Linked DNA regions of Homo sapiens: region 1 is linked to region 2. Evidence: fine-mapped expression QTL. A gene starts in region 2. The other region holds a variant in brackets. All regions are shown on one strand. Distances are from middle to middle. Region 1 has its middle 9.1 kb from the start of MAPK3. Region 2 holds the start of CORO1A-AS1 (CORO1A antisense RNA 1).

Region 1 (5,365 bases), 52 kb before region 2:
TCCCGCTTCAGCCTCCCAAAGTGCTGGGATTACAGGCGTGAGCCACTGCGCCCGGCTAGATCGTACAATATCTTGAAGGCCATTATGCTGGTGTCTTCCCTTTGAAGCCCTCTTATATTTTGTTGGTGCAAAAGTAATTATGGGGTGGGCATGGTGGCTCACACCCATAATCCCAGCACTTTGGGAGGCCAAAGAGGGGTGGATTACTTGAAGTCAGGAGTTCAAGACCAGTCTTACCAATGTGGTGAAACCCTGTCTCTACTAAAAATACAAAATTAGCTGGGAAGACTAGTTTCCTAGACGGGGTTTCACCATGTTGTCCAGGCCGATCTCGAACTCCTGACCTTGTGATCCGCCCACCTCAGCCTCCCAAAGTGCTGGGATTACAGCCAGCCACCGCGAGCCACCGCGCCTGGCCTTATTTTTTATTTTATCTTTTTTAGAGACAGGATCTTGTTCTGTCACCTAGGCTGGAGTGCAGTGGCCTGATCATAGCTCACTGCAGCCTCGAACTCTTGGGTTTAAGTGATCCTCCCACCTCAGCCTCCTGAGTAGCTAGGACTACAGGCACACATACACCACCCCTGGTGGTGTGTGCCTGTAGTCCCAAACCAGTCTGAAAAGATAGATGTGGGGGCCAGGCGCAGTGGTGATGCGCGTCTGTAGTCCCAGCTACAGGACTGAGGCAGGAGAATTCCTTGAGCCTAGGATTTTTGTTTTGTTTTGTTTTTTTGAGACAGAATCTCGCTCTGTCGCCCAGGCTGGAGTGCAGTGGTAAGATCTCTCAGCTCACTGCAAGCTCCACCTCCCAGGTTCACGCTATTCTCCTGCCTCAGTCTCCCGAGTAGCTGGGATTACAGACGCCTGCCACCACGCCCGGCTAATGTTTTGTATTTGTAGTAGAGACGGGGTTTCACCGTGTTAGCCAGGATGGTCTCGGTCTCCTGACCTCATGATCCGCCTGCTTTGGCCTCCCAAAGTGCTGGTATTACAGGCGTGAGCCACCGCGCCTGGCATGAGCCTAGGAGTTCAAGGCTGCAGTGAGCTGTGATTGTGCCACTGCACTTCAGCCTGAGCGATAGAGCAAGACCTACAAAAAACAAACAAAACCCAAAACAGAATCACATGTAACACACAGCTGTGGACTGATTGGTTGACAAAAGTGTGGTGATCAGAGGCTGGCAGGAACTTCACCATGTATTTCCGCTAGAAGCAATGTTCAGTATTCTCTAATTCATTGTTTGTGGTGACTTTGGGGAATATAACCACCACAGAGACAAGAATCAACTTTGAATGTGTCATCCCACCACCTGCTGGCTTCCGTTGTTTCTGATGAGAAATCAACTGTCAATCTCATTGGAGTTTCCTTGTACGCGATGAGTTGTTTTTCTCTTGCTGCTGCCAAGAGTCTCTTTTTGTCTTGTTTGTTTATTTATTTATTTATCTAATTTATTTATTTTGAGATGGAGTTTCACTTTTGTTGCCCAGGCTGAGTGCAATGGCACAATCTCAACTCACTGCAACCTCTGCCTCCCGGGTTCAAGCAATTCTCCTGCCTCAGCCTCCTGAGTAGCCAGGACTACAGGTGTGCGCCACCATGCCCAGCTAATATTTGTATTTTTTTTTTTAAATTTTTTGAGATGGAGTCTCACTCTGTCCCCCAGGCTAGAGTGCAGTGGCGTGATCGTGGCTCACTGCAAACTCTGCTTCCCTGGTTCAAGCGATTCTCCTGCCTCAGTAGCTAGGATTACAGGCACATGCCACCACACCTGGCTAATTTTTTATTTTTAGTAGAGGCAGGGTTTCACCATGTTGGCCAGGCTGGTCACGAACTCCTGACCTCAGGTGATCCATCCACCTTGGCCTCCCAAAGTGCTGGGATTACAGGTGTGAACCGCTGTGCCCAGCCTAATTTTTGTATTTTTGGTAGAGTGGAGTTTCACTATGTTGGCCAGGCTGGTCTCGAACTCCTGACCTCAGGTGATCCACCTGCCTCGGCCTCCCAAGGGTTGGGATTACAGGTGTGAGCCACCATGCCTGGCCCTTGGGGTCTCTTTTTTTATGAACTGTCTGTCCCACTGGGCAAAGCCTCTGAGACCCTATTTTGGACACTGGTGGAGCAGTAGCCTCTGGTTTTCGTGGCTTGCCCCTCCTGGCATGGGATCTCTGTTCCACAAGCAAGCTGGGAGGAGTGTGATTATGGTCCCAGTATTCTTGGACTGTCACTGATGGTACAGCCTTCATTCTATGGTGTGGGCGAGTGCTGGGTGGAGGAGAAGAGTGCCCTACTTCTTTACCACGTTCACCAGAAATGTAGCCTCTTCAATTTGGAGTTGGAGGGGATGAAAACTGGTGGCAGCATGCTCCTCCTGGTGAGATATGGTAAGCCTTGATTGGCAGCTGAGGGGAGAGGGAGCTTGTCTTCTTGGCCACATCTACTCA[G/C]AGAGCAGTTTCCTTCCAGCTGAACTGTGGGGGGAGGGCAGTCAGGAGATAGTTGGTCCTCCTGGCTTAAATGCCACAGATGGCCTGGCACAGTGGCTCATAATGTTACAGGTAGTTAAACAGGCATGAGCAGGGCTGGAGAGGGCTCTTCCCCACCCACCAGGAATGTCAAGTGATGGTTCAACAATGATCACATTGCCTCTCTAAATAATTTGGCAGCCAGCGCCAGAGAGAGAGACAAGCTCCTGATGGTCCACAGCTGTTATGTTAGAGTGTTAATTGAATGCAGACACCAGGGAGAAGCAATTTCCTGGACATGTGCATTAAGAGACAAAATAGTCTGGGCACGGTGGCTCACACCTGTAATCCCAGCAATTTGGGAGACTGAGGCGAGCGGATCACCTGAGGTCAGGAGTTCAAGACCAGTCTGGCCAATGTGGTGAAACCCCCATCTCTACTAAAAATACAAAATTAGCCAAGCGTGGTGTTGGGTGCCTGATATCCCACCTACTCAGGAGACTGAAGGAGGAGAATTGCTTGAACCCAGGAGGTGGAGGTTGCAGTGAGCTGAGATCAGGCCACTACACTCCAGCCTGGGAAACAAGAGTGAAACTGTCTCAAAAAAAAAACAAACAAACAAAAAAGAAAGAGACAAAATGATGGAGCATGACCTTCCGGGGTCAGACCACCGGAAAAGGGAAGAAAACCTCAGATAGGCATGCATACAACTTCCTACACACACTGTGCATGCTCACCTTCCCAGGGTAAGGAGGCCACTGTGCATGCAGGCAGCCCATCCTAAGGGAAGAATCATGGGAAAGGAGCCAGCCTATAAAGTCCTAGGATCAAGGTTGAACACCACGCTTGACCTTGGTGCCCACTTGAGTCTCTTCCAAATGTACTTACCTTTCTTTCCCATTCTAAAGCCATTTAAAATAAACTTCCACTCCTGCTCTGAAACTTCCCTTGGTCTCTTTTTCTGCCTTATGCCCTGTGGTTCTTTCTTCTGTGGAGGCAAGAATTGAGGTTGCTGCAGACCCGTACAGATTTGTCACCGGTAACTTGGATAACCTTTCACCGATAACAATGCTTATAATCCCAGCACTTTGGGAGGCCGAGGTGGCAGGATAGCTTGAGCCCAGGAATTTGAGACCAGCTTGTGCAACATAGTGAAACCCCATCTCTACAAAATAATAATAATAAAAGTAATAAAATTCAATGCCACAGATTCTCCCTGTTCTTACTGAGTTTTAGTAGATTTTCTTGAATAAGAAAGTGAGCCAAGATTGCACCACTGCACTCCAGCCTGGGCAACAGAGCAAGACTCCATCTCAATAAAAAATAAAATTAAATGTTTATTCATCTGTTATATGACATTAGGATAATTCCAGAAACTTTAAGTGTTTATTTATTTTTAAATGGTTTTCACCAGCTTTGCTTGTTTTGCTGGGGAAAAGATCCTCAGAGCTCCGGCACTGTCATCTTAGAGCTTTGATGTCCCCCAGTGTATTAATCCATTCTTGTATTGCTATAAATACCTAAGCCTGGATAATTTATAAAGGCAAGAGGTTTAATTGGCTCATGGTTCTGCAGGTTGTACAGGGAACATGATGCTGGCATCTGCTTGGCTTCTGGGGAGGCCTCAGGAAACTTACAATCATGGCAGAAGGTGAAGGGAGAACAGGCATGTCACATGGCAGGAGCAGGAGCAAGAGAGCAAGGGAAGAGGCGCCACACACTTTACTTATTTTATTTTTATTCATTTATTTTGAGATGGAATCTCACTTTGTCACCCAGGCTGGAGTGCAGTGGCACTACCTCAGCTCACTGCAGCCTCCATCTCTTGGATTCAAGTGATTCTTTTGCCTCAGCCTCCTGAGTAGTTGGGACTACAGGCATGCGCCACCACTGGCTTTTTTTTTTTTTTTTTTTTTTTTTAGACAGAGTTTTGCTCCCGTTGCTCAGGCTAGAGTGCAATGGCACCATCTTGGCTCACCGCAACCTCCATCTCCCAGGTTCAAGCGATTCTCCCACCTCAGCTGCCAAGTAGCTGGGATTACAGGCATGCGCCACCACATCCGGCTAATTTTGTATTTTTAGTAGAGACGGGGTTTCTCCATGTTGGTCAGGCTGGTATCGAACTCTTGATCTCAGGTGATCTGCCCGCCTCGGCCTCCCAAAGGGCTAGGATTACAGGCGCGAGCCACCGTGCCTGGCCAATTTTTTTTTTTTTTTTTTTAGATGGAGTTTCGCTCTCGTTGCCTAGGCTGGAGTGCAATGGTGCCATCTCGGCTCACTGCAACCTCCGCCTCCTGGGTTCAAGCAATTCTCCTGCCTCAGCCTCCCTAGTAGCTGGGATTACAGGCATGCGCCACCTCGCCTGGCTAATTTTGTATTTTTAGTAGAGATGGGGTTTCTCCATGTTGGTCAAGCTGGTCTCGAACTCCTGACCTCAGGTGATCCACCTGCCTCGGCCTCCTAAATAGCTGGGATTACAGGCGTGAGCCACCACATCTGGCCTAATTTTTGTATTTTTAGTAGAGACGGGCGTTTCACCATGTTGCCCAGGCTGGTCTCGAACTCCTGGCCTCAAGTGATCTACCCACCTCGGCCTCCCAAAGTGCTGGGATTACAGGTGTGAGCCACTGCGACCCGCCTTCACACACTTTTAAACAACCAGATCTCTTGAGTACTCACTCACTGTCAAGAGAACAGCACCAAAGGGATGGCGCTAAACCATTCATGAGAAACCCCACCCCCATGATCCAATCACCTCCCACCAGGCCCTACCTCCAACACTGGGGATTGCAATACGACATGAGATTTGGGTGGGCACACAGTTCTAAACCACATCCCTCAGCTTTTCCTTTCAGGCTTTTGGGTTAGTCTATTGCTTGCTCCAACACCTGTCTACTACTTCAGA
Region 2 (5,365 bases):
GCAGAGGTGGGACTTGAACCCGTCCCTTGCTGTTCCTTGAACTTCTCCACACGACAGGGCTGTCCCTCAGCCTACAGGTCACCCCTCTAGCCTTGCCTGTTGGCTCTTCCTAATCCTTTCAGGCCCAGCCCAGATACTTTTTAAACAAGAATGATGAGAGCTAACTTTTTTTAAAATGAGACGGTCTTGCTCTTTCACCCAGAGAAGACTGGGTGATAACAGTGGCTCAATCTTGGCTCACTGCAGCCTCTGCCTCCAGGGTTCAAGCTATTCTCATGCCTTAGCCTCCTCAGTAGCTGGGATTACAGGGGTGCATCACTACACCACGCTAATTTTTGTATTTTTAGTAGAGATGCGGTTTTACCATGTTGGCCAGGCTGGTCTCGAACTCCTGACCTCAGGTGATCCGCCAGCCTTGGCCTCCCAAAGTGCTGGGATTACAGGCGTGAGTCACTACGCATGGCTGAGAGCTAACGTTTATTAAGCACCCGCCACTTTCTAGATGAGGTCCTTACTGACTTCCTTGGGTTATTTTAGGTAATCATCCCCATACCTCTTACGTGGCAGGTATGACTGTTACAGAGGGAGAAACCGAGGCTGAGAAAGGCTAAGTAGCGGCCACACCTCACTCAGCAGGTGACAGGCTGCGGTCGCACTCATGACATAGTCTGACTCTAGAGCAGGCCTTTCCTGCCCGCTGTTGCTGCCTCCAGAAGCCTCTCTGAATCCAAGGGTGGGAACTATTCCTCCTTGCCCTCGAGCCTTCGCCAAAGCCAGGGCTTGGAGCGGCCGTGGGCTCCTCCTCCTTCCCCCAGGCTGGGCTCTTCAGGGGCGGAAACCTGCCTGGCTTGCCTGCCTTGCTCGACCCTGTAGCCCCTGGCACGAAGTAGGTGCCCGTGATGCCGGATTATTTCAGCAGGAGGGCAGGGGTGTTCCCGATGAAGCCAGGAGATCCAGGGAGGAGAAGCGACTCCCGGGGCCACCCATGCTTAGATCTCAGAGCCAGGCAAGAGCCAGGTCCCGGGGGTCCAGGAGCGCGCTCGGGGCTCCTCCTCGCCCGCGCCCCCCGCGCCCCTCGCGCCCCCCGCGCCCCCCGCGCCCCCTGCGCTCGCGTCTGCGGGGCCGGGAGGAAGGGGCGGCGCAGCCGGGCCGGGGCGGGCACCGAGGCCTGGCGGGCGGGCCTGGGGCGCTTTCGTGCCTGCCAGGGAAAGGCTGGCGAGGAGGCTGGGGGCGGACGCAGGGAGGAAAGAAGCAATGGGGTGCTCTTGCGTTTTGACATTTTAAAAAGAAGTTTAGATTCGCTTCCCGGAGCCGGGATGGCAGCCTGCGCTATGGTTGGGGACCAACGTGGTGCACGGGCAGGGGCCGGGGAGAGAGGCGGCCGCAGCGGGAGCCCGGGAGCGCAGGGCGGGCCTGGAAGAGCTCCGCCCCAAGGGGCGCGGCCACCCCGGAGGCGGGCGCACGGCTGCTTCTCATTCATTGTCTTGACAAGAGCATCTTCAGCGGGCGAGTCCCCGGCTCCTCCAGCTCCTTCCTCCTCTTCCTCCTCCTCCTCCACCTCCGGCTTTTGGGGGATCACTGTCCTCTCTCGGCAGCAGGTGAGGCTGGGCCTGGGAGGCGCGGGTGGGCCGGGGCGAGGGCCACCTGTGGGGCGGCGCGCGCGTGGGAGCCGCGGGCTGCGGGGGCGCGCGGCTGTCACCGCGACCCAGCCAGCGCCGGGGCCAGGTAGCGGGCGCAGCAGCCCGTGGGGGGACGCTGCTTGGAGTGGGGGCCGCCGGGGCCCCAGAGCGCTCTGCGGAGGCGAGGGCTAGGGACCACCGCGGCCAAGATGGAGGTGGGTGGCCGGGGGTCAGCACAGTGTCGAGGGCCCGACTCCCCACGGAATTGAGTCTCGGGGAGGGTGGGGACGAGGGCAGGGTGGGGTGAGCGGGGCAGCTGCCCTGGGCTTGGAGACAGGAAGGGGTTGAGAGCAAAACAAGAAAAGACCAAGTTCCCCTTTCCGTGGTTTCCGGGCCTGGTACCTGTGGTGGGGGAGGAGGCAGGGTGGGGCGATGGCTTCCTGTCCCCCACCTCTGGTCCGGGGCTCCCCTCTCTCCAGATACAGGCTGCTCCTCAAGACTGGGGCTCTTCACATACGCTCCTCACCGCTCTTTGGGCAGGCCGACCTAGCAGCCTCTTCGGGAGTCCTGGGGTGGCCGGGGGTGCTGGAGCCCCCAGTGAGTAGGCGAGGCTGAGGCTAGGGGCAGAGGCTCTGGGCATGGCACCCTCCAAGCGGCAGCACAGGCCCCTTCCCTGAGCAGGAAGGTGATGCGGTGGCACAAGGTCGCCCCTGGAGTTCCTTGCTCCCCACCCAGACACTGGGGGAAACCATCCTACCTGGACCTCAGAGCAGTCGGAGTGGCCTCTCCCTTCCTGTGTGCAGTTTACATGGGGGTGGAGATGGCTCTTAAGGGCACCTGCTTTTCTGAGCGGAGGCGAGAGGCAGAGGTATGGGGAGGAGGAGATACCTGGACCTGAGCCAGAGACCTGCTGGGGAAGCTATCCTGCCGCCTCACTCCCCTCAGGCAGCCCCCACGCCACTTCCTCCTGTGTCCAGCCCCATGCCAGCAGGCGAGGGAGGCCAGCTCCTGTCCCTGCCTTTAGGAAGCGCTGTGTGGGTGTGAGGGAGGTGGGCTCTGGACACGGTAACTAAGAGAGAACCCACCCTCGGAGCCATCTGGGCTGATGACGCCTGAGTCTGAACCATTAGGAAGGACGGGCTCTGCATCCATCAGCCAGTCAGTCAACAAACATGCAGTGGGGCAACACCACGCCAGGCTCTGTTGCAGAGGCTGAGGGTACAGATTGAGAGGGTGGCTCAGAGTGGCCTGGGGCCAGGGAGAAGGGGGCTTGCAGGTTAGAGGGAAGGAGAGGCTGGGGAAGGCAAGCAGGCATCAGCCACAGAGGGAAGAATAGGGAGCCCCTGGAGATGATGCTGGGACCTTAAAAGCCAGACTGAGGGGTGTCCTGGGGGAGGTGGGGACCACTGGAAGATCAGAGTTGACCTGAAGGGAGAAATGCTCTTATGCTGTGTGCCCCCAGAATGAGCCGGCAGGTGGTCCGCTCCAGCAAGTTCCGCCACGTGTTTGGACAGCCGGCCAAGGCCGACCAGTGCTATGAAGATGTGCGCGTCTCACAGACCACCTGGGACAGTGGCTTCTGTGCTGTCAACCCTAAGTTTGTGGCCCTGATCTGTGAGGCCAGCGGGGGAGGGGCCTTCCTGGTGCTGCCCCTGGGCAAGGTGAGCCCCTGGGGCCCTGGGGGGAGCAGCTCCTCCACCGGACCCATGGCTCTGTGCAGGTCCTGATTAGGTGACGGTCACCAGGCCTTCCAGGGCCTGTGTTGCCATCTGGAAAACTGAGCTGGGCCCCATGAGCCTTACACTTCCTCCAGCTCCTCTGTGCTGTGGCTGTGTGGAAACTGACGCTCAGAAGGAGCCAACACAAGATGGGTCACACCAGTGACCAGGACTACAGACAGTCCTGCAGACCCATGATCAGCCCTCCTGAGCCTCAGCCTGGGGCTTTCTCCCCATGGAAACACAGAGGGGGTTGGGATGGGGTCTGGGGGCCCTGGCAGCGTTCTCAGGGTTGGGAGGGACTCTGGCTCTGGGCCTGTCTGAGGACCTAGCAACTCTGTCCCCCAGCTCGCAGGCAGGGATGATGCAAGAGGTGCTCTCCCCCACCCGCAGCCCTGCCCTCCCCTGGAGCCTGCTGCCCCCTCCGCTGGCTGGCTGCTGCCCCGCACCCCCAGCACACTCCTGTGCTCTTTGGGGGGTAAGACAGGAAGGGGAGATGGGCCCCAAGTTGTTACCTTAAAAGGGCTGATGGAAGCAAAGAGAAGAGGAAGTGGTTGTCGGGGTGAGAGCTGGGCCCGCGCCCCACATGGCTGTCACACAGGAAGCCCTGCTGAAGCAGCTGTCCCCGGAAGAAGCCATTTCCAAACCTCTGCTCCTGCCTGGGGCCAGTTGGGACAGGCTCCCTGGCCCCTCTCCTTTTGGGAGGACCCACCCCTGCAGCCCCACCACTCACACTCGCTCTCTGGGGAGCTGCCTCCACCCCCCCAGCCCCCATACACCTGTCCTGGCTCCAGGGCCAGTTGTGCCCATGGAAGCCTCACTCGGGGAAGCTGGGGTGGGGGTGCCAACCCTAAGGGCAGAGACAGACTGAGACAGAGACCGGCGGGAACTCTGCCAGGGTCTTGCACGGCCCCCAACCTCTGCCATGCGTGGCCAGCCCTCCTGGGGTTTGCCCAGGCCATTTTGGGACTGGAACAAGAGAAGAACAACCCGCCCCCGTCCCCACCCCAGGCCCTGGTCCAGCTCCCAGGGACACCACAGCTTTCCTCTCTGGGCCTCTCTGAAGGAGGTGTGGGGAGGTTGGATTGGGTTTGGGAGGCAAAAGCACCTCCAAGGCCCTGCTGTGCCTTTAGACTGGACGTGTGGACAAGAATGCGCCCACGGTCTGTGGCCACACAGCCCCTGTGCTAGACATCGCCTGGTGCCCGCACAATGACAACGTCATTGCCAGTGGCTCCGAGGACTGCACAGTCATGGTGAGTGGTGGTGGGGACCCAGGGGCTGGGAGAGGGGCTCTAGGATGGGATCTGACATTTGGAGTCCTGAAGACTCACTGGCCCCTCCTCTGCAGGTGTGGGAGATCCCAGATGGGGGCCTGATGCTGCCCCTGCGGGAGCCCGTCGTCACCCTGGAGGGCCACACCAAGCGTGTGGGCATTGTGGCCTGGCACACCACAGCCCAGAACGTGCTGCTCAGTGCAGGTGCTGCGGGAGGAGGGGCTTGGGGGTGGCTCGTGGCCTGCAGTGGATGAGGGCAGGAGGCTCATGGCTTCTGACACTGTGGGGAACGTGCAGGTTGTGACAACGTGATCATGGTGTGGGACGTGGGCACTGGGGCGGCCATGCTGACACTGGGCCCAGAGGTGCACCCAGACACGATCTACAGTGTGGACTGGAGCCGAGATGGAGGCCTCATTTGTACCTCCTGCCGTGACAAGCGCGTGCGCATCATCGAGCCCCGCAAAGGCACTGTCGTAGCTGTGAGTCGCCATCTACCCTGACCTTTGACCCTACAGCCTTTATCCTTCTTATCCACCATCAGCCAGGCCCTTGGATGCTGCCCTCCCTCGCCTCCACCTGGGACTGGCCCCGTAGGGTATGTACGGGTGCCTGACCTACCACCTCCCTTTCCTTGCAGGAGAAGGACCGTCCCCACGAGGGGACCCGGCCCGTGCGTGCAGTGTTCGTGTCGGAGGGGAAGATCCTGACCACGGGCTTCAGCCGCATGAGTGAGCGGCAGGTGGCGCTG

The links. PIP is the estimated chance that this variant, and not a neighbour inherited with it, causes the effect. A credible set is the group of variants that fine-mapping cannot tell apart.
Region 1: its variant is the best candidate, but not a certain one, in a credible set for the expression of CORO1A-AS1 in whole blood (TOPMed, PIP 0.85).

The regions. Positions count from the first base shown.
Region 1 is chr16:30,129,653-30,135,017 of GRCh38, forward strand. No RefSeq gene overlaps it. Among named protein-coding and RNA genes, the nearest start is that of MAPK3, 9.1 kb to the left of the region's middle. The variant G/C (reference allele first, on the strand shown) is at 2,443.
Region 2 is chr16:30,182,128-30,187,492 of GRCh38, forward strand. It overlaps CORO1A-AS1 (CORO1A antisense RNA 1), which reads right to left and starts at 2,661. Exons shown (of 2, transcript NR_186359.1): 1 at 2,377-2,661; 2 at 1,266-1,644. CORO1A (coronin 1A) reads left to right here and starts at 1,475. Exons shown (of 11, transcript NM_007074.4): 1 at 1,475-1,598; 2 at 3,082-3,280; 3 at 4,471-4,593; 4 at 4,689-4,818; 5 at 4,912-5,096; 6 at 5,255-5,365. The coding sequence starts at 3,083. RefSeq lists enhancers at 228-337, 1,756-2,296, 2,297-2,838, 2,839-3,378, 3,379-3,920 and 5 more and silencers at 1,058-1,167, 1,308-1,767, 1,798-1,907, 3,278-3,377.